Homo sapiens: one gene and its partners. The protein of the gene in region 4 binds, or shares a complex with, the protein of the main gene of each other region. Each region holds a gene or a part of one and is shown on either strand. Other genes may lie near its edges. The genes, in order: DRC3, DRC4, DRC8 and DRC5.

Region 1 (6,555 bases), on a different chromosome or scaffold from region 4:
AAGTCCCTGGAAGAGATCTATCTCTTCTCCCCGCCCATCAAGTAGTCTGAGATCATTGACTTTTTCCTGGGGGCCTCTCTCAAGGATGAGGTTTTTTTTTTGTTTGTTTGTTTGTTTGTTTGTTTTTGAGACGGAATTTTGCTTTTTTGCCCAGGCTGGAGTGCAATGGCATGATCTTGGCTCACGACAATCTCCACCTCCCAGGTTCAAGTGATTCTCCTGCCTCAGCCTCCCGAGTAGCTGGGATTACAGGCATGCGCCACCATGCCCAGCTAATTTTGTATTTTTAGTAGAGATGGGGTTTCTCCATGTTGGTCAGGCTGGTCTCAAACTCCTGACCTCAGGTAATCTGCCCGCCTCAGCCTCCCAAAGTGCTGGGATTACAGGCGTGAGCCGCCACGCCAGGCCTAGGATGAGGTTTTAAAGATTATGCCAGTGCAGAAGCAGACCTGCCCCAGCCAGCGCAGCAGGTTCAAGGCGTTTGTTGCCATCAGGGATTACAATGGCCGTGTCACTCTGGGTGTTAAGTGCTCCAAGGAAGCAGCCACTGCTGTCAGAGGGATCACTGTCCTGACCAAGCTCTCTACTGTCCCCGTGCAGAGGCCACTGGGGGACCAAGATTGCAAGCCCCACACTGTCCCTTGCAAGATGACAGGCTGCTGCGGCTCTGTGCTGCTGCACCTTATTCCTGCACCCAGGGGCACTGGCATCCTCTTGGCCTCTGTGCCCAAGAAGATGCTGCTGATGTCCAGTATTGACAACTGCTACACCTCAGCCAGGAGCTGCAGTGCCACCCTGGGCAACTTTGCCAAGGCCACCTTTGATGCCATCTCCAAGACCTATAGCTACCTGCCCCCTGACCTCTGGGAGGAGACTGTGTTCACCAAGTCTTCCTCTCAGTAATTCACTGACCATCTTGTCAAGACCCACACCAGAGTCTCTGTGTGGAGGACTCAGGCTTCAGCTGTGGCTACAACACAGGGTTTTGTTTTGAGATGGAGCCTTGCTCTATCGCCCAGGCTGGAGTGCAGTGGTGCAGTCCTGGCTCACTGCAACCTCCACCACCTGGGTTCACATGATCCTCCTACCTCAGCCTCCCGAGTACCTGGGACTACAAGCGCACACCACCATGCCTGGTTAATTTTTTGTATTTTTAGTAGAGATGGGGTTTTACCAATGTTGGCCGGCCAGGCTGGTCTCAAACTCCTGACCTCAAGTGATCCGCCCACCTTGGCTTCCCAAAGTAACACAGGGTTTTTATATAAGAAAAATAAAGTGAATTAAGCCTGTTTAAAACAAACAAAAACACAGATACATAAACCAATGAAACAGAATAGAGAACTCAGAAATTAATCTATATATTTACAGCCAACTGATTTTTGACAAAAGCGCCAAGAACACTCACTGGGGAAAAGACAGTCTCTTCAATAGATTTTGCTGGGAAAACTGGATATCCATATGCAGAAGAATGAAACTAGATTCCCATCTCTCACTCTATACAAAAATCAACTAAAAATGGATCTAAGACCTACATGTAAGACCTGAAACTGGCAGGGCGCAGTGGCTCATGCCTGTAATCCCAGCACTTTGGGAGCCTGAGACAGACAGGTCGCTGGAGCTCATGAGTTGGAGACCAGCCTGGGCAACATGGCAAAGACCCACCTCTCTATAAAAAATACAAAAATTAGCTGGGCATGGTGGTACCTGCCTATAGTCCCAGCTACTCAGGATGCTGAGGTGGGAGGATGGCTTGAGCCCAGGAGGTGGAGGTTGTAGTGAGCTGAAATTGCACCACTGCACTCCAGCCTGAGCAATAGAGCCAGACTTTGTCTCAGAAGAAAAAAAAAAAGACCTGAAACTATAAAATGACCAGAAGAAAACAAGAGAAATGCTTTAGGACATTGGCCTGGGAAAAAATTTTATGAATAAGACCTCAAAAGCACAGACAACAAAAGCAAAAATAAATGGAATATATCAAACTATAAATCTTCTGCACAGCAAATGAAACAACAGAGTGAAAAGACACCCTACACAATGTGACAAAATATTTGCAAACTACTTATCTGACAGGGTATTAATATCCAGAATATACAATGAACTCTAACATCTCAATAGCAAAAAAACAAACAATTCAATTAAAAACATCTGAACAGATGTTTCTCAAAAGAAGACATACAAATGGCCAACAAATACATTAAAAACTTTTCAGCATCACTAGTTATCAGGGAAATGCAAATAAGAACCAGAATGAGGCATCATCTCACCCCACTTAGGATGATAATTATCAAAAAGACAAAAAATAACAAATGCTGGTGAGGATGCAAAGAAAAAGGAACTCATATACTGTAAGTAAGAATGTAAACTAGGACAGCCACTAGGAAGAACATTGTGGAGGGCCCTCAAAAACTACAAACAGAACTATCATATGATCCAGCAATCTCACTACTGAGCATTTGTCTAAAGGAAAGGAAATCACTATATTGAAAACATATCTGCACCCATGTTTACTGCAGCACTGTTCGCAATAACAAGATACAGAATCAACCTAGGTGTCCAACAACAGATGACTGGATAAAGAAAATGTGGTACCTATACACAATGGAATACTATTCAGCCATAAAAAAAGAATGAAATCCATGGCAACATGGATGGAACTGGAGGACATTATGTTAAGTGAAATAAGCCAGGAACAGAAAGTTAAACACCTCATGTTCTCACTCATATGCCGAAGCTAAAAAAGTTGATCTCATAGAAGTAAAAACAAGAACAGAGGCTTCTAGAGACTGGGAAGGGTAGAGAGATGGAGGAATAGGGAGAGATTTGTTAAAGGATATACCAAATTACAGCTAGATAGGGGGAATAAGTTCTAGTGTTCTATACCACTATGGGATGACTATAGTTGACAATAATATAGTTTCAAATAGCTAAAAGGAGGATATTGAATGTTCTCAACACAAAGAAATGATAAATGTTTGAGACGGATATGCTAATACCCTGATCTGATCACTATACATGATAGGTGTTGAAACATCACTATGTACCCCATCAATATGTACAGTTATTTGTCAATTTTTTTAATGCCAATTTTTTTTTTTTTTTTTGAGGTGGAGTTTCACTGTTGTTGCCCAGGCTGTAGTGCAGTGGTGCAATCTTGGCTCACTGCAACCTCGGCCTCCCAGGTTCAAGCTATCCTCCTGCCTTAGCCTTCCAAGTAGATGGGATTACAGGCACCCGCCACCATGCCCAGCTAATTTTTGTATTTTTATTCACCATATTGGCCAGGCTGGTCTTGAACTCCTGACTGAGGTGATCCACCCACCTTCCCGCCTTGGCCTCCCAAAGTGCTGAGATTACAGGCATGTGACACCGTGCCCGGCCAGTGCCAACGTGTTTAAACAAAGAAGTTGCTTTGAAAGAAATGTGTCTTTACAGCCACAAGGACCACAGAGCAGGGCAACAGCTCAAAAAAGACTCAGGAATACCTGTTTGCACAGCCCCTGCCTCCACCCTAGTGCTTTCAACCTGCAGAAACTGGAGAGGGATCTGGAATATTCTACCCATAAAAACTATTCTAAGAGGGAAAATTGAAGTAGCCACCACTCTAGGCCACCCAAAGTCCAGAAACAACTTGTAACTCACATTTCAAAACAATTCCCTTAAACCCAGTTTCCTTTTGTTTTCATTTTACAAATGTCACACAGTTTTTCATAACCAATTCTAATCATGTATGTTTCTAAGCAGATTTCAGTTTCTGTTGCTTCTCACAGCTTTTGAAGCTGTTTTCTACATATTCAAACTCTGAGGGGTATGATTTCTCTGCCTGGCTTAGAGCTCCACTATGACCCACCTTTTAGAATGAAGGATGAGAACCTTTTCGTGATGGGTTGACACTGTGGTTGTAGTTATCTCTAAAATAACCAGGACACCCACTCCTAAGCACACTGCCAAGGCTCACCGAAAACAGGCTTTACACACCTTTGAACCATTCCCAGAGCCTGGCCTGGGACCTTGTACACACATGGAAAGAACTTAATAATTTCTTGACATTTCTCCCTTGTGACTGTGCTAATTGGTCCCCCAGACACCCCATTCCACATATCAGCTAACCTGGCTTTTCCCACATGAGATTATGTGGAAAATCAGCATCCCACAAGACATTAACAGGCATTACTCTGAAGTCTGTAGCCAAAAAAGTTGGAAAACCAAGAGAGACAAAGCTTAAAGGGTTTATTTTCCACAGGACTTTGTAGAGCCTTCAGAATACTTTGTGCCCAGCAAATCTTTAGGAGGGGCCTAGGATGTGCTGGCTTTCCCAAATGTATTTGACCAAAGAATACTTTTTTTGGCAGAAATATTAACATCTTAAGATTGCACAGAACGTTTTAGAGACCATTAAGTTAACTGCCACTACAGGAAAGAACAAAAAATGCACACTCCACTTGCAAATCCTCCCTGCAATACAGAGCATTCAGGTGCTCTGCCTTACCAAGCGCCTCTGCTTCAAGGTGGAAGCAACTGCTTACTGAGTGCTTCAGTGGCCTTGCCCTGCTCTGGGAAATGACTCCATTTCAACCATCCCAGGCAACAATAGCCACAGTGTCAACACCTAGAACCAGTGAGGCCTATTAGAAGGTGGTTGTTTCTAACAACTTTTTACAAGACAGCAAAGTCAGGAACAAGAGAAGGCAGAAGGATACTCCAAATGGAATCCAAAGTTTGGTTTTGTTGACATGAGTGGCAGTGGAGAGACAACTGTGGGGTGAACACCCATGAGTTTGTAGGGCCTGCTGTCTTCAGAGCAGCCTCGAGACCCTCAGCCAGCCTCATGCTTCCACCCAGCAGGCAGAGGTTTTGGGCAAGTTAGACTTGAGAGTAATTGAGAGAGAAGCATTGTGAGAACAGATGTCCTGGGTGAGGTGCCCCCTGGGCAGCCATCTGCCTTCACCCTGGAGGAAACATGCTTCCAGCGGGGACTGCAAAGTAACACCCTGGTTGGCCCTTTCCCCACAACACCTGCCCTGTGCAGTTGGGGAAGCGGCTGTCACAGATGAATTCACAGATGAATCGGCAGAGTGCGCTGATACAAAGGTGGGCTCTGCTCTGAGTGTGGCCTGCACAGCCAGGGGACTTCCAAATGCTCCTTCTCTGTTCAGCTCCCTTTGTGTTCACGGTATAATGACACACACTTTCTCATTGGATTCTTTTCACTCACCAGCTTTTTGTCGATAAAGATACGATTGTTAATGCTGTCGGGGCATCGCACGACATCCACCTCCTGAAGATTGACAATCGAGAAGATGAGCTGGTGACCAGAATCAACTCTTGGTGTACACGTTTAATAGACAGGGTGAGTCAATCCCAAGCCATCCTAGCAGGCTGGATGAACTTTTCTAGCTGACATGGAAATCCTCCCTAGGTAGTGGATAGAATTTTCATTAAGGAATGAAATGAAGGAAGAAATAAAATTAAGGATTATAGAATTCCACACTGAAGACAACATTGCCCAGAGACTTTAAAACCCATGGGCTTCATCATTTTCCTAATTCCTACCTCAAATATACAGAGATCAGCAGAACCTGGGGAGGCGCTGAAGCAAATGAGGTTTGCAGATCTAAAGGAACTATTTTCCCCTTCCCTCAAACTGGATTCAGTGAAAGATATTAACCAATGATCTGATGTAAGGAATCGGGCTTTGGTTTCACTCCTCAGATTCACAAGGATGAGATCATGAGGAACCGCAAGCGCGTGAAGGAGATCAATCAGTACATCGACCACATGCAGAGCGAACTGGACAACCTGGAATGTGGCGACATCCTAGACTAGATGAATGTCAGCCACAGGAGCTTCTTCAAAACATAGCACCAGCCCCAGCCAGGAGAAGGAAGTGCACACGCCTCACCCGCACCTCTAGAGAGTTGCTGGGCATCTCTCAACCGCGATCCCCAACACCATTCTTCCCCCACCCCTGGAAAAACTTCCAAAAGTAGAGAAAATAAAGGACTCATTTCACATTTCCCCTACTCATAAAAAAAAAAAAAAAATCAGCTGGGTGCGGTGGTTCACGTCTGTAATCCCAGCACTTTGGGAGGCCGAGGCATGCAGATCACGAGGTCAGGAGTTCGAGACCAGCCTGACCAACATGGTGAAACCTTGTCTCTACTAAAAATACAAAAATTAGCCAGATGTGGTAGCGTGCACCTGTAATCCCAGCTACTCAGGAGGCTGAGGCAGGAGAATCACTTGAACCTGGGAGGCGGAGGTTGCAGTGAGCCAAGATCGCACCACTGCACTCCAGCCTGGGCGACAGAGCGAGACTTCGTCTCAAAAAAAAAAAAAAAAAAAAAAAAAAAAAAAAAAAAATGTTCATGTAGGAACAAGAGAAAGAGTTTGAGATGAACAGCCGGTCCCAGGCCAGCTGACAGAGCAACTCCCAAGGGCACTGCCATCAGCTAGATTCTTGGCTGTGGCATAAAGTCAGACACGTGCCCCTGCCGTTTCCCCTGCCATGCCTAGGCAGGCTGCCAGCCACAGGCAAAAGGAGGCCGGTGTGGGCTA
Region 2 (7,027 bases), on a different chromosome or scaffold from region 4:
AAAAAAAAAAAAAAAAGAGAGTTCAAGACCAGCCTGGCCAACATGGTGAAACCTCGTCTCTACTAAAATACAAAAAAAAATTAGCCAGGCGTGGTGGCGGGCACCTGTAGTCCCAGCTCCTCGTGGAGGCTGAGGCAGGAGAATTGTTTGAACCCAAGAGGTGGAGGTTGCAGTGAGCCAAGGCAGCCTGGATGACGAGGGAGACTCCATCTCAAAAAAAAAAAAAAAAAGATAAATGGATTTAGGTTTTAATGTTTTTAAAAAATAAATAAAATTTCCACATGAAATTTGTAATTTTAAAAACGTTACATAGCTGGGCACAGCAGCAGTGAACTCCTGTGGTCCCAGCTCCTTGGGAGGCTGAGGTGGGAGTATCAGTTGAGCCCAGGAATTGGAGTCTGCAGTGAGCTATGTGATCACACCACTGCACTCCAGCTTGGGCGACAGAGCAAGACTTTGTCTTTAAAAAAGGTTACCGAGACATGTAGACACAGAAAAGCATGGGCTGAAGACTACTGGGAGTAGCAAAGTCAGCAGGATAGGATATGGAAATTTGTTACCTGCTTGAGTGCCCTGTAAATGGGTGGCCAGACAGAACTGCTCCTGGTGTCATGCGTGGTTTCAGCAACTTCCACAAGGGGGTGGGGTTAGAAGGTTCTCTCCCATCCTTGTCAAAGTTGCTAAAACCACGCACGACGCCATGTGCAGTTCCGTCTGGCAGCCCATTTACAGGGCTCTCGTGGTGGGTGCTGTCTGCCCAAGCTTTCTTGACCAGGCTTCTCTGAAGGAAGTTTCTCTTTGAAAGAAAGGAAACTTGTGGTTGTCACAACCGATCGTGGTTATGGAGGCATTTCTCCCTAAGCTTACTGAATGGTGTCTTGCAGGTCTTTTCCATGGTGGTCACCAATGTTGCCGCCAGCATGGTAACATTTGGCAGTGTGGTATTGAGGGTCTTTCCTCTGTTTTGCATCCACAGCAGAGGTCTTTACTTTTTACCAAGGAGTGAGTGGGTTTGGAATGGGTTCCCCCCTCTCTTAGTTTTTGGAGACGGGGTCTCGTTCTACTGCCCAGGCTGGAGTGCGGTGGTGCACCATAGCTCACTGCAGCCTTAAACTTCTAGGCTCAAGTGATTGTCCTGCCTTGGCCTCCCAAAGTGCTGGGATGACACGTGTGAGCCACTGCGCCTGGTCACCGTATACCAAGGAATGAGTGGGTTTGGAATGAGTTCCCTCTCTTTTCTTTTTTTTTTTTTTTAAGTTACAGTTTGCTTTTTGAGATGGAGTCTCACTTTGTTGCCCAGGCTGGAGTGCAATGGTGGGATCTTGGCTCACTGCAGCCTCTGCCTCCCGGGTTCAAGCGATTCTTCTGCCTCAGCCTCCCGAGTAACTGGGACTATAGGCACACACCAGCACACCTGGCTAGGTTTCCTCTCTTTTTTTTTTTTTTGAGATGGAGTCTCACTCTGTCGTCCTGGCTGGAGTGCAGTGGTGTGATCTCGGCTCACTGCAAACTCCATGCCCCAGGTTCAAGCCATTCTCCTGCCTCAGCCTCCCGAGTAGCTGGGACTACAGGCGCCCACCGGCACGCCCGGCTAATTTTTTTTTGTATTTTTAGTAGAGATGGGGTTTCACTGTGTTAGCCGGGATGGTCTTGATCTCCTGACCTCGTGATCCGTCCACCTCGGCCTCCCAAAGTGCTGGGATTACAGGCGTGAGCCACCACGCCCGGCTCCTCTCTTTTCTAGAAGGAATGTTCTCCTTCTCAAAAGGAAGGTTTCTCCTTTGTGCTTCTCCAAATGCAACAACAGGATGTGTGTGTGGTAAAGGGTGGGAACACTCAGGGCAATGATGTGCTCCAGGTGAGCAGAAGGGAGAGAGGTTCCAGAACCTTCTCTGCCAAATGTTCCTGGGAGCAAATCAGAGCCAGCCAAGAAGGGGAAGCTGTTAGAGTCTCTCTTACCCCATTATTTCCACCAAAGGCACCGAAAAAGAAAGGGAAGAAAGGCAAAGCCAAAGGCACCCCGATTGTCGATGGGCTCGCTCCAGAGGACATGAGCAAGGAGCAGGTGAGCAGAGCGGGCTGTGGCCCAGTCCCCGGGTGGGCGTGGGCGGGCACCACGCAGGGTGCCTACGCCGAGTGTCCATCTTGCCATGTGGATCCACCCTTCTGTCCAAGCCAGAACACGCCCCCCGCGTGGCCCATAATTCCCATCAGCGGCAAAGCTTTCGGCTGCACCATGTCTTTTCAGAAAGGTAGTGCAGCCTGTGAAAGAGCTTTGTAACAGGGTGGTAGGAGTGTGGAAGGACATGCTTTTCTGATCTAAAAGCTGTTTTTAATTTCGTGTATTCTCTTTCAATCTTACCCTTTTTTTGCACCTGATGTGTATAGACTTATCGTAGAACACACATGTAGCATTCTCCTTTATTTTATTCACCATTAAACATTATGTCAAAAAGGAAGTTTTTGAAAGAAGGATGATTTACTTCAAATCACATCTGAATCTGATTAATCGTTCATTTTTTTTTTTTTTTTTTTTTTTTTTTTTGAGACGGAGTCTCACTCTGTCGCCCAGGCTGGAGTGCAGTGGCGCGATCTCGGCTCACTGTGAGCTCCACCTCCCGGGTTCACACCATTCTCCTGCCTCAGCCTCCCGAGTAGCTGGGACTACAGGCACCTGCCACCACGCCTGGCTAATTTTTTTTTTGTATTTTTAGTAGAGACGGGGTTTCACCGTGTTAGCCAGGATGGTCTCGATCTCCTGACCTCGTGATCCACTCGCCTCGGCCTCCCAAAGTGCTGGGATTACAGGCATGAGCCACCACGCCTGGCCAGTCATTCATTGTTTTTGATAAAAGTCCCAACAAGGAGTAACAGCATCAGGGCTGCCTTTTTCTTGTTGCTTATTTTGGGGAGGAGGTGATGTTTTTATAGTTTCTTTGTAGGAGTTAGTTTAAGTCTCTTCTTCATTTGGATGTAGTTAAGGGCTACAGAACATAATTACATAATTACAATTTTACCTAAAAGGCTCCTGGAGACGGCAGTGTGTGGCAAGCACGGTGCACCCTCTGGCCTCTGCCCTCATGGACGACTGCCTGTGAGCACCTGACATGGGACATGAGGGCTGTGTCAACTCTGTGTTATTGTTAATAAATCTTACCTTCTTTTGATAGTTGTAAGATAAAAAATCAATACGAAGGAGACTGAAAGAGTCTCATGACCTGAAGTTGGAGCTAGGCAGAGGTCCTTGAACAATGGTAAAGAATGGCTTTATTTTACATGCAGGCAAACCATTGGCAGTTTAAGCCAGTGGCTAAGCAGAGAGGTGATGGGGTCAGGTTTGTGTTCTGGAAAGATGTCTGGAGCTGCTGGATGGAGAATGGATTGAACACTGCGTTGTCCCAGCATGTGAGCTGCTGCCCGTCTCCCTGTCCGCTTCCCATTCCTGTGGAGACAGGCCTTGTGGGGCAGTGGCCATGGAGCCTACGGGGCAGCCTACGGGGCAGGCTACGGGGCAGCTTACGGGGCAGGCTATGGGGCAGCCTACGGGGCAGGCTACGGGGCAGGCCCTTGCACTGCACATCGCACGTTGAGCCACAGACTCAGAAGGCTTCTTCAGGGTCCAGGCAGGTGGGGAGGGATGGGGGTGACCTGGAGACTCCTGCCCCGCAGCAGAGGACAGTTTCATCTGTTCACTGGGGAGTGCCTTGTGGGCCTAGGAGTTCAGTGCTGTTTTTTTCTGATTTTCCAAGAGAAGCTGGAAATCTGGATATTTATAAGAAATCTGAATATTGAGTGATGGCAAAATCTCAACACCATGTGAGCCAAACAGACCAGTCAGGAGCCCTGGTTCAGGCTCTGCCCAGGAGCCTCTAAAGGTCTGTGACGTGAAGACATTTGTCGTTGTGCCGAGGCACTGGTTGGATTCGGGGGTGCGTGTCTCCCTCATGTCTGCCCGGCATCCTCGGCTCAGAACCCCTCCTGCTGCTCCTTCTTGTTTGCTCGTTGTCTTGTCTTCTTTTGAGGTGAGAAATGTGTTTTCCCTGTGGGGAATGTGGTGTTGAGAAAGAAAAAGGCTCACAGTAAGTGGCCTGGGGCTGTGCCCGAAAAGTAACTGATTCTGACGGAATCTCGCTGTGTGGCCCAGGCTGGAGTGCGGTGGCGCGACCTCGGCTCACTGCAAGCTCCACCTCCTGGGTTCACACCATCCTGCTGCTTCAGGCTGCCCAGTAGCTGGGACTGCAGGTGCCTGCCATCACGCCCGGCTAATTTTTTTGTATTTTTAGTAGAGACGAGGTTTCACCGTGTTAGCCAGGATGGCCTTGATCTCCTGACCTCATGATCTGCCTGTCTCTGCCTCCCAAAGTGCTGGGATTACAGGTGTGAGCCACCGCGCCTGGCAGTAACTGATTCTTAAGGGAAATGAGCTCCCGAGAAAGCTGGAAGCCTGTCCTACATTTTTTTTTAACCTATTTGCAGATTCGCAATTGAACCCTCTTGAGATTTTAGAGTCTACTGGTTTTGTATATTTTTTGCTTAACATTATATCTTCAAAGGTGAATTTTTTTTCATTTAGCATTATGATATGAATTTGTTTAAATGCTGCTACATCATTTGCATATTTTTTTTGGGTTAATGTGATATTTCTCCTAGTTGATATACTCTAATTTTTCAACCATTTCCATATTTATTTATTTATTGTTTAGAGACAGGGTCCTGCTCTGTCACCCAGGTGGAGTGCAGTGGTGTGATCACGGCTCACGGCAGCCTTGACCTCCCAGGTCCAAACGATCCTCCTACCTCAGTCTTCTGAGTAGCTGGGACTATAGGCATGTGCCACCACTCCTGGCTAATTTTTTTTTTTTTTTTTTTTTGTAGAGACAGGGTTTTGCCATGTTGCCTAGGCTGTTCAACTCTGGGGCTCAAAAGATCCTCCCAAAGTGGTGGGAGCCACCATGCCTGGCTGTTTGTGTATTTTTTGAGACAGATTCTCACTCTGTCACCCAGGCTGGAGTGTAGTGGCATGATCATAACTAACCGCAGCCTCAACCCCCTGAGCTTGAGTGACCCTCCCACCTCAGCTCTCCCAGTAGCTGAGACTATAGGTGCGTGCCATCATGCCTAGTTAATGAAAAAAAGTTTTTGCAGAGATGGGGTCTTGCTATGTTGCCCAAGCTGGTCTTCAGCTCCTGGGCGCGAGGGATCCTTCAACCTCAGCCTCCCAGAGTGCTGGGGTTGCAGGCGAGAGCCACCGCGCCTCGCTTATTTCCCTGTTTAAACTGGTCTTAGGTTATTTCCTTTTTGATATTTTTGCTGTTGTAATAATGGTGTGGGTAATATCTTTGAGCAAGATGCTCTTATATTTCTTTTGAGAAATTTTTTAGGCATCAATTCTCAGGAATGGATGAAAGGATCTAGTTATTTTATGATTATTGGCCAAATTGAAGAGAATTCTGCCACCTGCTGAATGCATTCTGTCTCCGGAGCTTCCTAGCCTTATATTTTAACTTTTTACATTTAGCTGTTTATTTTTAGGTGAAGTTGAGTCCTCCCTCTTTCTTCCTTGCCTTTCGCCGGCCACACGCCCCGTTGCCGTGCATGGGCCCCTGCTCAGTGCCTCACCTGACCCACTGCACCTGGCCAGGTGGAGGAGCATGTCAGCCGCATCCGGGAGGAGCTGGACCGCGAGCGGGAGGAACGAAACTACTTCCAGCTGGAGCGGGACAAGATCCACACCTTCTGGGAGATCACACGGAGGCAGCTGGAGGAGAAGAAGGCTGAGCTGCGGAACAAAGACCGGGAGATGGAAGAAGCCGAGGAGAGGCACCAGGTGGAGATCAAGGTGAGTGGGGCCGGCCTGCACGTGCTAACCTGGTCACCACAGAGCCCCAGAGGAGCTGGATCCAGTGAGGGTGCAGGTGGGACATTTTCTGTTCTTGGCTTTGGGAGTCACAGCCTTAAAGGTGTTTTTTATAAAAGCCTGAGGGAGAGACCCTGCAGGTCCTGAGGGTTTAAAATGCTGCCTCCACAACATGGAAGGAATATGGGCTCTGGGGGCAGACTGGCCTGTTTGCAACTCAGCTCTGCCACTTAATACCCCATGAGCTGGGGATGCACCTCACCTCCCAGCCTTGGTGTCCTGCTCTGTGCCTCAAGTGTACAGGTTTGCATAGGTGAACAGGCATGTGTAGCTGTGTAAAGGTGAGGCATGCAAGTGAGCAGGTGGATGCAAGTGAGCATGTGTGTGCAGGTGAGGAGGCGTGGCCAGGTGAGGAGGTATGTGCAGGTGAGGTGTGGGGAGGTGAGCACGTGGGGCAGGTATGTGCAGGTGAGCAGGTAGGTGCAAGTGACCAGGTGTCTACAGGTATGTACAGGTGAGGAGGTGTAGTACAGGTGTAGTGCAGGCGACCAGGTGTGTACGGGAATTTACAGGTGAGGAGGTGTACAGGTGACCAGGTGTGTACAGGTATGGACAGGTGAGAAGGTGTGGTACAGGTGTGGTGCAGGTGAGCAGGGGGGTACAGGTATGTACAGGTGAGGTGTGTTACAGGTACGGTGCAGGTGATCAGGTGTATACAGGAATGTACAAGTGAGGAGGTGTGGTACAGGTGACCAGGTGTGTACAGGTATGGACAGGTGAGGAGGTGTGGTACAGGTGTGGTGTGGGTGAGCAGGAGTGTACAGGTATGTACAGGTGAGGAGGTGTGGTACAGGTGACCAGGTGTGTACGGGTACGGACAGGTGAGGAGGTGTGGTACAGGTGTGGTATGGGTGACCAGGTGTGTACAGGTATGGACAGGTGAGGAGGTGTGGTACAGGTGACCAGGTGTGTACGGGTACGGACAGGTGAGGAGGTGTGGTGCAGGTGTGGTATGGGTGACCAGGTGTGTACAGGTATGGATGGACAGGTAAGGAGGTGTGGTACAGGTGACCAGGTGTGTACAGGTATGGACAGGTGAGGAGGTGTGGTACAGGTGTGCTATGGGTGACCAGGTGTGCACAGGTACGGAAAGGTGAGGAGGTGTGGTGC
Region 3 (7,027 bases), on a different chromosome or scaffold from region 4:
TGAGGCAGGCGGATGACTTGAGGCCAGGAGTTTGAGAACAGCCTGGGCAACATAGCAAGACCCTGTCTCTACTAAAAATACAAAAATTAGATGGGCGTGGTGGTGGGCACCTGTAATCCCAGCTACTTGGGAGGCCAATGCAGGAGAATTGCTTGAACTCAGGAGGCAGAGGTTACAATGAGCCGAGATTGGGCCACTACAATCCAGCTTGAGCCACACAGTGAGATGCCATCTCAAAATAATAATAATAAAAACTATATATATATAAAGTAGAATAATTATAATAGCTAATACTGTTCTTAGCTTTAAATCCCAAGCTAATATTGTTCTAAGAGCTTTAAAAATGTCCACTCACAATAGTGGTTCTCAAACTTTTTGGTCTGATAACTCCTTTTACAAACTATCAAAAATTATCAAGGCGCTCAAAGCGTCTATGTTTGTGTGAGTTATATGCATCTATATTTACTATCATATTAGAAATTAAAGCTTACATTTTAAAAATATGTATTTATTAATTCATTTAAAAATCATAAATCAACCCAAATGTTTACATAAATAGTTGTTAATTTTTTAAACTATATTTTCCAAAACAAAAAGTATATTTAGAAGAATGGCATTGTTTTACATTGTTTTACATACGTTCAATGTAAATATGTAACACCTGGCTTCACAGAGGACAGCTGCATTCTCATATCTAGTTCTGCGTTCAATCTGTTGTAAAACTGCACGTCATGTAGCCTTTGAAAAACTCCAGTATAAGGCTGGGTGTGGTGGCTCACGCCTGTAATCCCAGCACTTTGGGAGGCCAAGGTGGGTGGATCACCTGAGGCCAGGAGTTCATGACCAGCCTGGACAACATGGTGAAACCCCGTCTCTACTAAAAAAAAAAAAAAATACGAAAATTAGCCGGGCGTGGTGGCGGGCACCTGTAATCCCAGCTACTTGGGAGGCTGATGCAGGAGAATTGCTTGAACCCGGAAGGCGGAGGTTGCAGTGAGCTGAGATTGCACCATTGCACTCCAGCCTGGGTGACAGAGCGAGACCCTGTCTAAAAAAAAAAAAAAAAAAAAAAAAAGAAAGAAAAACTCCAGTATATACTTGTGGAAACAGTGAGAATGAAAAGAACAAATACTGTCTTAAATTTATTATGAAAATAGTTATGACTTCACAGACCCCGGAAAGGGTCTTGGGGGCACTCTGAGAACTAATTACTTATACTATGAAACCTAGGAGGCAAAGGTACATGGAGGCACAAAGAGAATAACAAAGTGACTCGCAGTCACGGAGCTGGGATGGGAACCCAGGAAGTCTGATTCCAGACCTCAGGACTGCCCCTCAGAGGTGGAAGGGCAGTAGCAGGAGCCCAGCTCATAATGCTTTTGACAGTGGGCTGGTGGCTGCCCAGCATTTGGAATACCAGACTTTCCCTTTATCTAATGCAATACAATTTCAAATCAAATATTTCAATTTGTGCAAAGCAGAGATAAGGGAAAGGGAAAGTAGCCACCACAAAATTCTAAGACCTAGACCTCTCAGGGGACCTAGATCAGCCCTACACAGGAAGTAACACCAAACCTCCACCTGAGGGATAAAGCAGTTAGGGGAGGAACAGCCAGTGCCTGGGGGCGGGGGGCGTCTCCAGGAACAGCTCTCTCTGTCCTGCCCCCACTGAGCCATTACATATCTCTCCCTCCGTTCAAAGACACTTCTTTCTTTTTTATTTTTAGACAAAGCCTCACTTAGTCGCCCAGGCTGGAGTGCAGTGGTGCAATCTCAGCTCACTGCAATCTCCACCTCCTGGGTTCAAGAGATTCTAATGCCTCAGCCTCCCAAGCAGCTGGGACTACAGGTGCACACCACCATGCCCAGCTAATTATTTTTATTTTTTAGTTTTTAGTTTTTATTTTTAGGAGAGATGAGGTTTCACCATGTTGGCCAGGCTGGTCTTGAATTCCTGACCTCAGGTGAGCCACCCACCTTGGCCTCCCAAAGCTTAATTTCCAATTTATAAAGAGTGGCCGAGTGCAGTGGCTCACACCTGTAATACCAACACTTTGGGAGGCTAAGGAGGGTCTATCACTTGAGGCCAGGAGTTCAAGACCAGCCTGGGCAACATAGCAACACCCCTGTCACTACAAGAAATAATAATTAGCTGGGCGTGGTAGTCCTAGCTGCTTGGGAGGCTGAGGCAGGAGGATCACTTCAGGAGTTCAAGGTTACATACAGTGAGTTATGATCAAGCCACTATAATCTAGCCTGGAGGACAGAGTAAGACCCTATCTTTAAACGAATTTTTTAAAAAGAGTGGATGGTAATGATACCAGCAGCATGAGAACATTCATTATAAACTTTAAAGTGATATACAAATTAACACAGGAAAAATTATAAAGCTACATTCATCCATGTTGTTATTCCTCAAATATACTCAGCAGCAATATTTTAATGCTAAAAACAATAACAATTTTCTTAGTAACCATCTTTAATTAACAAAGCAGACTCTTTAGGTTGTAAGAACATCCACTTTCCCTCAGGGCCTCGGTAAAGTTATTTTAACTTTCAATGGAAAAAAAGATTCAGCCCATAAACACGTTTTCTTTTACTGAATTGGCCCTTTTACCAAAAAAGGCCTGGCATCATTGCTGTCAGTGATCGGGAGATTTTCTTTTCACTGCTACTGTCAGGAAGCCTGAAGGCAGAAGAGAAGCCCCTGATGTCTCTAAAGAGTAGGAGTGGGAGTGTGGGCAGTGTGGCATGCCCACAGTGTAGCAAGAGACTTGGCGTTAGAGAAACCTGGTGTGACATGGAGCAAACGATTTACCTTCTCCTTGTCTCTGGAAACCGGAGATGCCAACCCTTAACCCATAAATAAAAAGATTAAAATGAGGTAATCCACGTGAAGCCTCTGGCACCCAACTACACGTAGTGTGTTAGATGACAAGCCTCAAGCAGATGCTGGTTTCTTTTCTCTCTTTTCCCTCTCTCTCATAATGCCATACTTTCCCTGACTTCTCTAACAATACCTCTGTCCCCCGCCCCCAGGAGGAGAACCCTTCAAGGAGAGGTCTGAGGTCAAGGCACTTGTCATTCATGTAGTTAGTTATTCAAATTGCAGGCCGGGCTGCCTGCTGCACCCCCTCCCTAACCCTACCACCACCACCAGCACCCTGCCCACTCATTTCCTACTGGGATACCCACAGGAAGGCCTGGTGTTCCACAATGTCATTCCCACAGAATGCAATGTGACCACAGCCACCGGAGCTGTATGGTGCTGCAGCTCTGATGGCACTGGTTTATAAGCATCAAACAGTTCCTTTCCAGAACCATTTTCAAACCACTTCCCACTGCTTTGCTGGCCTCTCTACTAGGTTCTGGTCTTGAGATTGCAATCTCATCAAATAACCCTCATTTAGCCCGGCCTCCTGAAAGGATGGTTTCATTGCCTTTTTTTTTTTTTTTTTTTTTGAGACAGAGTCTCGCTCTGTCGCCCAGGCTGGAGTGCAGTGGCATGATCTCAGCTCACTGCAACCTCTGCCTCCCGGGTACAAGTGATTCTTCTGCCTCAGCCTCCAAAGTAGCTGGGATTACAGGTGCCTGCCATCGTGCCCGGCTAGTTTTTGTATTTTTAGTAGAGACAGAGTTTCACCATGTTGGTCAGGCTGGTCCTGAACTCCTGACCTTAGGTGATCTGTCCACCTTGACCTCCCAAAGTACTTGGATTACAGGTGTCAGCCACCACGCCTGGCTTCATTGCTTTTCTTTGATGTGTGTGGCACAAACCCTACAATTCTTATTAGCGTCTAATCTCTTCTCTTAAGGGGTTTTTTGTTTGTTTTGTTTCAGTCCCAAGCTGTGTCCTCCATTTCAGACCTACCAGTATTCATGTCTTCTCTTGCCTTTTTATGTTCTTCTGTTTGGGTTCTTTTTGCTATTTTACAGGGGGAGTGTGTCATCGCATAAGCATTACTGTTTCCTTGCAATATCCTATTTGTGGCCTTATAATACATATTTATGTGTTTTACAAAGCAAATGCTGTTCCTTCACTCAACGACTATTTCCTGAGTACCAACTATGTGCCAAGCACTAAAGCTAAAATAGAGTTCATCTCAGTCACAGAGTTTACAATTATAGGTTGGAACAGGCAATGAGAATACAGTATATTGTTTCTACCAGAGTATGAAGAATAAGAAACAGTACTTATCAAAGCAATAGCTAGCAAAGACCTTTTACGGAGCATGGAAAATAAATACTTAAAAGAGCATAATAAATCCAAGGTACAGTGTAAAAAGAGAAAATAGCTCTCTTGTATCTTATGACTTGTATCAGTAATTTAAAAGTGTAACAAAAAAAAAAATATTTCCACACCTCACATCCACTGTATTATTCGACTCATGGTCAAAGACTTCAAATGCCTCTTTGATTTTTTTGTGAAATTCTGCTACTATTATCTCTGCAAAAGACAAAGTAAATAAAAATTAGTTTACTTTAGCTTTGAATTCAAAACAAAAATTCTAATAACCAGACTAGCAATCTTAATAAGTAAGCATATGAAGAACCCTCTCCTTATATTTATGTATCATTTAGCATGTTTAACTTCCTCTGGAGATGTCAAAGGATACACTGTATTTGTAAACATTTTTTCTGAGGCAAAATATACATATGGTAAAGGTGCACTGATCTTAAATACACAGCTTAATTAAGTGTTTACATACGCATATACTCATGGAACCACTCAACCACTCCAATCACGGTGACAGAATATTTCCAGCAGCGGCCTCTCTATCTCAAGTCCTTTGGGTAGAGTCGTAGCCTGAGAGGCACAGTGAAACCAATAAAAACAGATACTGTTTGCTTATCAACAGTGTTCCCTGCCTACCTTGCCTTATTCTTTGCTTGTGGAGTTGGGGGAAGAAAGGCATAAAAACCAACATGACATTTACTCAAAAAGCTTTCAAACTAGTTTTGGACTATGACTTACATATATGAAACACTCATATATATATTCAGTAAACAGTTACCTAGTACTTACAATGTGCTAAGGTTATGGCAAGGAACAAAATAGAAAAAAATTCCTGCCTCCATAGAGCTACTTTTATTGGGAAAGAAATATAAGCTCGTAATATTCGATAAAATACATAGTAAGGCAAATGGTGTGAGAAATAGAGGAAGGAATAAACAGGGTAGGGACACGAGGAGTGCTGGGCGTGGGTGGGGGAGAATGGGTTGATACGGTGGTCTTAGAGAGGCCTGCCTCTGTGGTAAGGCGACCCTTGGGCAGACACCTGAAGGAGGGGAAGGAACCAGCCTTATGAACAACTGCAGAGTTTTCAGGCAGAGAGAACAGTAAGTGCAGAAGAGTAAGAAATAAGATCAGAAAGGTATGAGTTTGAGGGTGATTGTAAAGAGGCCTTGGCTAGGTGCGGTGGCTCACACCTGTATTCCCAGCACTTCGGGAGGCCGAGGAGGGTGGTTCACCTGAGGTCAGGAGTTTGAGACCAGCCTGGCCAACAGGGTGAAACCCTGTCTCTACTAAAAATACAAAATTAGCCAGGCATGGTGGCGCATAACTGTAATCCCAGCAAGTTGGGAGGCTGAGGCAGGAGAATTGCTTGAACCTGGGAGGCGGAGGTTGCAGTGAGCCGAGATTGCGCCATTGCACCATTGCACTCCAGCCTGGGCAACAAGAACAAAACTCCATCTCAAAAAAAAAAAAAAAAAAAAAAAAAGCCCTGTAGGCTACTTTAAGGATTTCGGCTTTTACTCTGAATGAGATGAGAAGCCGCTGAAGGGTTTTTCCAGGCAGCACAGTGATGCGGTCTGCTGATCACTTTGGCTATTATGAAAAGGGTGGAAGCAGAGAGACCAGTCAGGAGGCCTCTGCAATACTCCAGGTGAGAGATGTGGGCCAGAATGGTAGCAGTGAAGGTGGTGAGAAATGTCAGCATTCTGGATATATTCTTTCTTTCTTTTTTTTTTTTTTTTGAGACAGAGTCTCTCTCTGTTGCCCAGGTTGGAGTGCAGTGGCTTGATCTCGGCTCACTGCAACCTCCACCTCCCGGGTTCAAGCGATTCTCTTGCCTCTGCCTCCTGAGTAGCTGGGACTACAGGCGCACACCACCATGCCCAGCTAATTTTTTGTATTTTTAGTAGAGACAAGGTTTCACCATGTTGGCCAGGATGGTCTCGATCTCCTAACCTCATTATCCACCCGCCTCAGCCTCCCAAAGTGCTGGGATTACAGGCGTGAGCCACCGCGCCCGGCAGATTCTGGATATATTCTAAAGAGCAGAGCCAACAAGATTTGCTGATAAATTTTATGTTAGGTGCAGAGAGAAAGAAAAGGGTTAAGGCCAACTCCAAGGTGTTTGGCTGAGTGAAAGAATAAAGGACAATAATGTAATTAAGTCTCTAAATTGTGCTAAGCATGGGAGCTCATGCCTATAGCAGTTTGGTAGGCCCAGGCAGGAGGATTGCTTGAGGTCAGCAGGTCGAGGCTGCAGTGAGCCATGATCACACTACTGCACGCCAGCCTGGCGACAGAACCAGACCTTGTCTCAAAGAAAAGAAAAAGGTGTCAAAATGTATCAAACAGTAAATACAGTAGGACACCCAGAAAGAAAGAGATTAGGCATGAGTTTAGGTAATTATTTCAATTAGAAATATAATACCACCCAATAGTAGAAAATAGGAAATTTTAAAATCAGTCAAATTCTCTTCCCCCTAACATAACTACTCATCATTTTGCTGTATTTTCTTCCAATCTTTCTTCATACATATTCTTTTATATATGGCATTGAATAACTACCATTCACTCACTCAACAAATATGTACTGAATAAACACTATACACCAGGTTCTACGTCAGGTACTGTATATACTTTTACAACCGTAGAGAAAAAAAGAAACCAAAGCTCAGAGAGGCTAAGCACCTTGCCCAAGATCACAGAGTTATTGAGTGGCAGAGCTGGACTGAACTCAGATCTTCCTCATTTGAACAATCCTGCTCTTCTCCCCCCACACCCCACCCCACC
Region 4 (7,027 bases):
TGCAACCTCTGCCTCCTGGGTTCAACCTTCATTTTTTTCCCCTAATTATCTTATAAACCACCTCTTTCAGCCTCTCAAGTAGCTGGGATTACAGGCATGTGCCACCATGCCTGGCTAATTTTTGTATTTTTAGTAGAGACGGGGTTTCACCATGTTGATCAGGCTGGTCTTGAACTCTTGACCTCAGGTAATCCACCCTCCTCGACCTCCCAAAGTGCTAAGACTACAGGCATGAGCCACCATATCCCGCCTCCCTTGCCCCTTTTCTAACTTTGCTTTTTGTATCTGAAACTCATTCACACTAAGGTGTGGAATACATATATCCTGATATCTTATATGTAGTCATGTGTATTATATATGTAATTTCTGCACACTTAAACTGTCAGAAACAATATATTACAACTTCTACTTTTTAAAAAGTTTGCTACATTAGGCTGGGTGCAGTGGCTCACGCCTGTAATCTCAGCGCTTTGGGAGGCCAAGGCGGGCAGATCACCTGAGGTCGAGAGTTCAAGACCAGCCTGACCAATATGGAGAAACCCCGTCTCTACTAAAAATACAAAATTAGCCAGCCGTGGTGGTGCATGCCTGTAATCCCAGCTATTCGGGAGGCTGAGACAGGAGAATCACTTGAACCCAGGATGCAGAGGTTGCGGTGAGCTGAGATTGCGCCATGGCACTCCAGCCTGGGCAACAAGAGCGAAACTCTGTCTCAAAAAAAAAAAAAGTTTGCTACATTAGTGTCAGTATACATTTTATGATTTACTATGCTTTTGTTTGACCTAAAATGATGAGATATGTTTTTAAAAAGCAGTTCAAGGTTAACATATGGATATAGGCATACAAGTATTGATATTAAATTTTGTTTCATTTAGGGGGAAAATGCATTTACCCTAACAGGGATGAAGACTGTACATTAGGGCCGTGAAATTCCCCTAGTGGAGTGCCAAAGGCCTGGGAGCGCACTTAGCCCGGGGAGGCCCTCCCCACTTCCCAAGGAGCAAGAATATGCTTTCTTCTTGCCTAGTGGAGGGCAGGAACAGTGAGGGGAGGGGGACATACTGAGTGACTGTGGAGGGGTAGTGTATTGTGGCTAGAGGTAGGAGACCTGCCCTCAGACGCTGGCCCCAGCTCTCATAGGTGTTTTAGGGCCAGTCATTTCCTGTTTCCTTGTTTCTTCATCTGTAAAATGGGGATAAGAAAGCCCATCCTAGCTCCATTATAGGGTGGTTGAAGAGTCACATGAGAAGATTTTTTTTATTTTTTAGAGACGGCATCTCACTATGTTGGCCAGGTTGGTCTTGAATTCTTAGCCTCAAGCAATCCTCCCACCTTGGCCTCCCAAAGTTCTAGGATTACAGGTGTGAGCCACCACACCCAGACTTTTTTTTTTTTTTTTTTTTTTTTGAGAGGATAGTTCTGAAAGGACCTTGAAAGGACCTTGTAACTGTTAAGTGCTGGACAGTTGTAAGGTGCTGATACTGTCCCAGCCCTGGAGAGATGGGATGTGAGACTAGAGGCTCAATGTAGTCAAGAGAGGAAGAGGCCACAGGAGTGAATCAGGTCCTGTGAGTAATAACCTGGGGGCCTTTGGCCATTCTCAGCTATCCCATTGAACTCTTTCATCTACTGATTGAGGATTTTTCCCATATTTTCACTCACCAAACTGTGAGCCTTTTGGTCAAAATGGGGCAGGACCTTTTGGTCAAAAGGAGTAGAAACCCAACTCTTAGCTTTGGCAAAGGGACTTATTAGAAGGCTGCCAAGTTAGCTCTCAGAGCTGAAGGCACTGCCAAAGAGCCAGACAGCTCTGGGAGCCTCCAGAACTAGGCATGGGGATTGAAGATACCAGGATGCTGTCTCTGTCTATCTATCGTTTCTGCTGGTCTCCCCCAGGCTTGATTCCCTCCCACCGCAAACAGACCTTGTACGTGTGGAGAGAAATGACTTCCAGCAGCAGGAGATCCAGATCCTTCAAGGACATATGTCCTTCTGTCTCCCTCCACTTGGACAAATCTCAAGAAGGACTCCGATTGGCTTATATCAGATAGCCACCCCCCAACAAGTTGCCCTGACCAATAGACACTCCTTTTGGCCAGAATCTATTATCAGAAGCCAGTGGAGCCGCCCCAAACACCAGCTACCTCGCCTAAAGCAGACCTACCACTGGGCTAGAAATTGGAGACAAAAATGAGGAGGAGACAGCCCCTACACCTCAAGAAGCTCACAGTCTAGTGTGGGTGTGGGGAACGGGTGGGCAGTCAGGTTACTGGAGTGATGCAGGTACTGGAAAGATGGGGTCTGACAACGGGAGGGGTTGTTTTGGGGTATCAGGGACAAAGAAGCACCTTGCCTTCAGAGAGGAAGTGGTGCTTGAGCTCAGACTCAGAAGACCAGTGATTGTCCCTTTCCCTGGCTGAGGTGGTGGGAAAGGCATTTCAGAGGGAACAACTTGAGCAAGGGCTGGGCAGCATGAACTGGGCTGCAATGTCCCAGATGCAAAGAGGAGCTTATTTCCAACAAGGTGTCCAGCCACGGAGGGCCTTACACACCAAGGTGAGGAGGCTGGATTTTACCCAGTGAGCAGTGGTGAGCTGCTAGAGGGCTTACATGGAGCCTGCCACAGCGGCTGTGTGAAGGCTAGATGTGAGAGAACCAGACTGGATGCCAGAGACCACATGCCTAACAGCTGAAGCTGTGATCCAGACAGACACTGGGGCCCTGAGCTAAGGCAGCAGCAGGAAAGGAGAGGCTGCCTGGGTGGGAGACAAAACTGAATCAGTAACTAGATGGTGGGGTGGGGCGGGAGGGCTGAAAGAGAGAGAGGTGACTCCCTGGTTTCTGGTGCCGGCATCTGGATGGATTGAGTTTGAGGGACCTAGGCAGCATCCCAGTGGACTTGAGTCTGGAATGCAGATGTAGGAGAGTCTGGCATTACACCACCACCCCCTAGCCTCACCATCCTGGTAACAGTACCCTCTGCTTCTCCTGGGATGTCACAGCTGGGAAACCCCACCTGGAAGAGGTGAAAGCTAGAACCCATCAGAAGGAATGAGTGGACGACCATGGCGGAATTCTGAGGGACCTTGGCACGTGAGAGATGGGCAGAGGGAGAGAAGTCTGTGGTGAAGACTTTTGGAAAAAGAATGGTCGGAAAGTAGGAGGAGAGCCAAGAGAGTGGCACGCCAAAGGGTGTCCCCCAAGGGCAGGGGTCAGAAGGCAACCTGCCAAGGGAGGAGCCATACTCCACATCCTCATAACAGTGACAGCGGGGCAGCAAGGAGTTAGTTTTGCTCGTTATCCTTTTAAATATACTTTGTTTTCTATGTTGTTAGTTTAAAAAGTAGATTTTTTTAAACACTTAGAACTAAAATCCTCCTTAGAAGAATCTTGTGTGTCTGGTAATAATTTGCCTGCCAAAATATTTTTGTGATATCCATTTTTAAAAAATCAAGAGATGATTAACTGAAAATTATCAACTCTGATCTTATGCAATTAATTTTTTCAACATTTGCCTTAAAATGACATCAGGCCTTATGGTATGGATGTTCCTATAAAGGCTGAAGGTAGTAGGGGCTCATTTTTATACCAGCCATGCACACGGCAGCCATGTGATATGGAGCGAGGCCCTGCCCCTTCCTTCTGAGAAGTTGGTTCAGGGCCCTGGAACATGCCCCGATGGGTCCTGCTGTGTCATGCCCAGAGGCAGGCTGCAGGCACAAAACAGCAGCAAGACCAATTAGGACCAGATCGTAGGAAGAACTCCAGGTCCTGAAAGTGAGGTGCTAGACGGTGGGACTAGAGTCACCTGATTGCAGAGGCATCCCACCTGGCCCCAGGTGGGGTTTCCCAGGTGTGGCTCCCCAGGAGAAGAAGGAGAAGGGACTGCCTGCCAGTATGGTGAAGCTGGATGGTGCTGTGAGGAATGACTAAAGAGTCAACTCCAGGGCAATGCACACCAGCAACCTGGGGCTCCCCCTGCCAAGCCTGGTCCTGCTCCCTGGGTGTGGCCCATGGGTGTCCAGGGACATATCTGGGACCAAGGGAAATTATAGAATGTTTTAGGCCAAAACCAAGCAGGAGTTGGGCTGGCCTGTTGCCTCTGACCTTCCTCCTTTGCCTCTGTCGTACTGTCTATGAGCCCCCAACACCACCCTGCCTCCTTGCCCTTCACATCACTCCTGGAAATAGGGAAGGGCCTCAGAAACTTTGCACTCACCCAAAGATACCATCTCAGGTCAGCACTCAAGAAGCAGGTCTCCTGGATGTGGTCTCTGCAGCCTCAGACCCCTGCCCCTCATAGTACCTTCACTCTCCACACACCCTGTATGCTTTACAATGATCAATATTAACCGACCATTATCTCAGGGGGATCTCCACTACAGCCCATGTAGGAAGATATTATTATCCAGTTTCTCAGATAAGGAAACTGAAGCTCAGATAGGTTAAGTAACTTGGCCAAGGTCACAAAGCACATAACTGACAAAGCCAGAAATGCAAAGTCAGCCGGTACCACTAAGCAGCAACCCCCTCCAGCCCTACACTCTGAGATGCCATTAGTCAAAAAGCACTATCTGGTTATTCCACAATTCTGGACACAATCTGTGTGTGAATTTGCATTTGATTTGCATAGGGGATGTCACAATACCTAGATATCTTTCCCGCACTATCTCTCTCCCTGCCACCCGCCTCTCAACCAGGCTTTTCCTCCTTGAGATGCCTGGCAGGCTGGGAAGCACCATCTGGTCCCTCCCTCTGCCAAGGACGCCTTTGCTGGTTCAGAGTGTTCCCTCCCACCGGCCACTACCCAGTGCACTGAGTCGTGAGGGTGCACATCTGATGGGAAACTGCCTGGAGGAGGAACTAGGTGCCAGCAGCCCCATTTGGGCTTTCCTCCAGCAGATCTCAGGGCAGGAGTGCAAGGGTGCAGGAATGGGCAAATGGGGGAGGGTCCCCGGACCAAGACACATCCTCTATCTTCTGTCTTCAGCCCCAGATTTAGCTGTCTTCTCGCCTCCCACGCTTGCCCACTGCTGTCTGGAATGCTGGGAGGCTGGGAGAGCTAGAGGAAGACTGGATGGGGAGATGGAAGGGAAGGGACCTGGAGTTTGAGCTCTCAGTGGGAAGGAGGAGAGAAGGGTGCTGGCACCTTGGGCAGGGCATGGGTCTTGTTCCCCTCTCCTTTCTCTCTCAACCTGCACTCTCTGAAACAGTAGCCACATTGAAACGGTAGGCTCAATGTGCCCATTGAGCCATCAAATTTTGAAGACCTCATATGAAAACATAGTATATAAAATGTCGCATTAATAATTTTATATTGATTATATGTTTAAATAACATTTTAGACATACTGGGCTAAATATAAAATTAATTTCATGGTCAGGCACAGTGGTTCACGCCTGTAATCCCAGCACTTTGGAAGGCTGAGGTGGGTGGATCACCTGAGGTCAGGAGTTCAAGACCAGCCTGGCCAACATGGTGAAACCCCGTCTCTACTAAAAATACAAAAATTAGCTGGGGGTGGTGGCAGGCGCCTGTAATCCCTGTAATCGGGAGGCTGAGACAGGAGAATCACTTGAACCCTGGAGGTGGAGGTTGCAGTGACCCAAAATCGCGCCATTGCACTCCAGCCTGGGCAACAAGAGCAAGACAAAAAAAAAAAAAAAAAAAAGCTAATTTCACCTGTTTTTCTTTTTTTTTTTTTTTTTTTTTTTTTTTTTGAGACAGAGTCTTGCTCTATCACCCAGGCTGGAGGGCAGTAGCACAGTCTTGGCTCACTGCAACCTCTGCATCCCAGGTTTAACTGATTGTCATGCCTCAGCCTTCCGAGTAGCTGGGACTACAGGTGCCTGCCACCCTGCCCAGCTAATCTGTGTATTTTTAGTAGAGACAGGATTTCACCATGTTGGCCAGGCTGGTCTCAAACTCCTGACCTCAAGGGACCCACCCACGTTGGCCTCCCAAAGTGCTGGGATTACAGGCATGAGCCACCACGCCCAGCCTTGTTTCTCTTTACTTTTTAAAATGTGGGCACTAAAGAAGTTAAAATAGCATATGTGGCTTGCATTTTGGCTTGCATTATATTTCTGTTGGCCAGAGCTGTTCTCAACCCCATCCTACGGATCAGGCAGTTGCTGTTCTATGAAATACTTAGTGCAGGGTCCTGTTATGAGCTGAATGGCTCTTTATTATATCTGTGTCTTTTGGCAATATACACCCCTCACCCTCAGAGGGCCGGTCCAATGTAGGGTTCAGAGCATGAATTTGACAGACTGAATTTAAACCCACCCGTGATACTTCTAAGCTGCATGACATTGGGCAAGTCAATTAGCCTCTCTGCTTCAGTTTCCCAGCAGAAAAATGGGAATAATACAAGCACCTATCTGAAAAAGCCTTTTCTGAAAAAGGCTTTTCTGAGGACACATGAATTAATAGGCATAAAGAACTAAAAAGATTGTCTGGCACAGAGCAATTACTGTAATTGCTGTAGAGCTATTATCTAAAATTTGGGGCTGCTCCTTGCTAGTTTCATGTGTCAGATACTATATTATGCCCTTTGGATGCATTATTTTATCCACTCCTCCAAATAATCCTACTGGAACTGCGACCTTCATTTCTCAGAGGCAACATCTGAAATTCAGAGAGGTTCAGTAACTTGCCCAAGGCCACACAGATAACTTGGATCTGCTTCACTCCAGGGACTGATCGTTAAGCACTATTCTGTACCACCTCTCTTAGTAAATGCCCACCAAGACCCACCAAAGTAACACCTCTACCCTCTTCCTTTTGCTCCAGATCCCTACCTGTTTCAAGGACCTGCCAGTCTGAGAAGCTTCTTGTCATAAGGCCATCCAGGGGCCACGCACCCCTACCTTGCCAGCCTCCAGCATGCAGGATACCGTAACGACATCAGCATTGTTGGACCCCAGCCACTCCTCAGTCTCCACCCAGGACAATTCCTCCACTGGAGGACACACTTCAAGCACAAGCCCACAGCTCTCAAAGCCTTCAATCACACCAGTCCCTG

Evidence for each region.
Region 1: DRC5 (region 4) and DRC3 share a complex: the UniProt entries of both Homo sapiens proteins name them as parts of the nexin-dynein regulatory complex.
Region 2: DRC5 (region 4) and DRC4 share a complex: the UniProt entries of both Homo sapiens proteins name them as parts of the nexin-dynein regulatory complex.
Region 3: DRC5 (region 4) and DRC8 share a complex: the UniProt entries of both Homo sapiens proteins name them as parts of the nexin-dynein regulatory complex.

The regions. Positions count from the first base shown.
Region 1 is NC_000017.11:18,010,849-18,017,403, forward strand, and holds the end of DRC3 (dynein regulatory complex subunit 3), read left to right. Parts: intron 1-4,210; exon of another isoform or gene 4,211-5,215; coding exon 5,216-5,347; exon of another isoform or gene 5,348-5,352; coding exon of another isoform or gene 5,353-5,412; intron 5,413-5,709; coding exon 5,710-5,823; 3' UTR 5,824-6,041; downstream 6,042-6,555. UniProt on the Homo sapiens protein: Component of the nexin-dynein regulatory complex (N-DRC) a key regulator of ciliary/flagellar motility which maintains the alignment and integrity of the distal axoneme and regulates microtubule sliding in motile axonemes.
Region 2 is NC_000016.10:90,025,658-90,032,684, forward strand, and holds part of DRC4 (dynein regulatory complex subunit 4), read left to right. Parts: intron 1-1,977; exon of another isoform or gene 1,978-1,978; coding exon 1,979-2,065; intron 2,066-3,241; exon of another isoform or gene 3,242-4,244; intron 4,245-5,518; exon of another isoform or gene 5,519-5,641; coding exon 5,642-5,839; intron 5,840-7,027. UniProt on the Homo sapiens protein: Component of the nexin-dynein regulatory complex (N-DRC), a key regulator of ciliary/flagellar motility which maintains the alignment and integrity of the distal axoneme and regulates microtubule sliding in motile axonemes.
Region 3 is NC_000001.11:245,014,662-245,021,688, reverse strand, and holds part of DRC8 (dynein regulatory complex protein 8), read right to left. Parts: intron 4,808-7,027; exon of another isoform or gene 4,714-4,807; coding exon of another isoform or gene 4,710-4,713; intron 4,448-4,709; coding exon 4,363-4,447; intron 1-4,362. UniProt on the Homo sapiens protein: Component of the nexin-dynein regulatory complex (N-DRC), a key regulator of ciliary/flagellar motility which maintains the alignment and integrity of the distal axoneme and regulates microtubule sliding in motile axonemes.
Region 4 is NC_000006.12:44,287,687-44,294,713, reverse strand, and holds part of DRC5 (dynein regulatory complex subunit 5), read left to right. Parts: intron 1-1,896; exon of another isoform or gene 1,897-2,236; intron 2,237-6,795; 5' UTR 6,796-6,888; coding exon 6,889-7,027. UniProt on the Homo sapiens protein: Component of the nexin-dynein regulatory complex (N-DRC) a key regulator of ciliary/flagellar motility which maintains the alignment and integrity of the distal axoneme and regulates microtubule sliding in motile axonemes.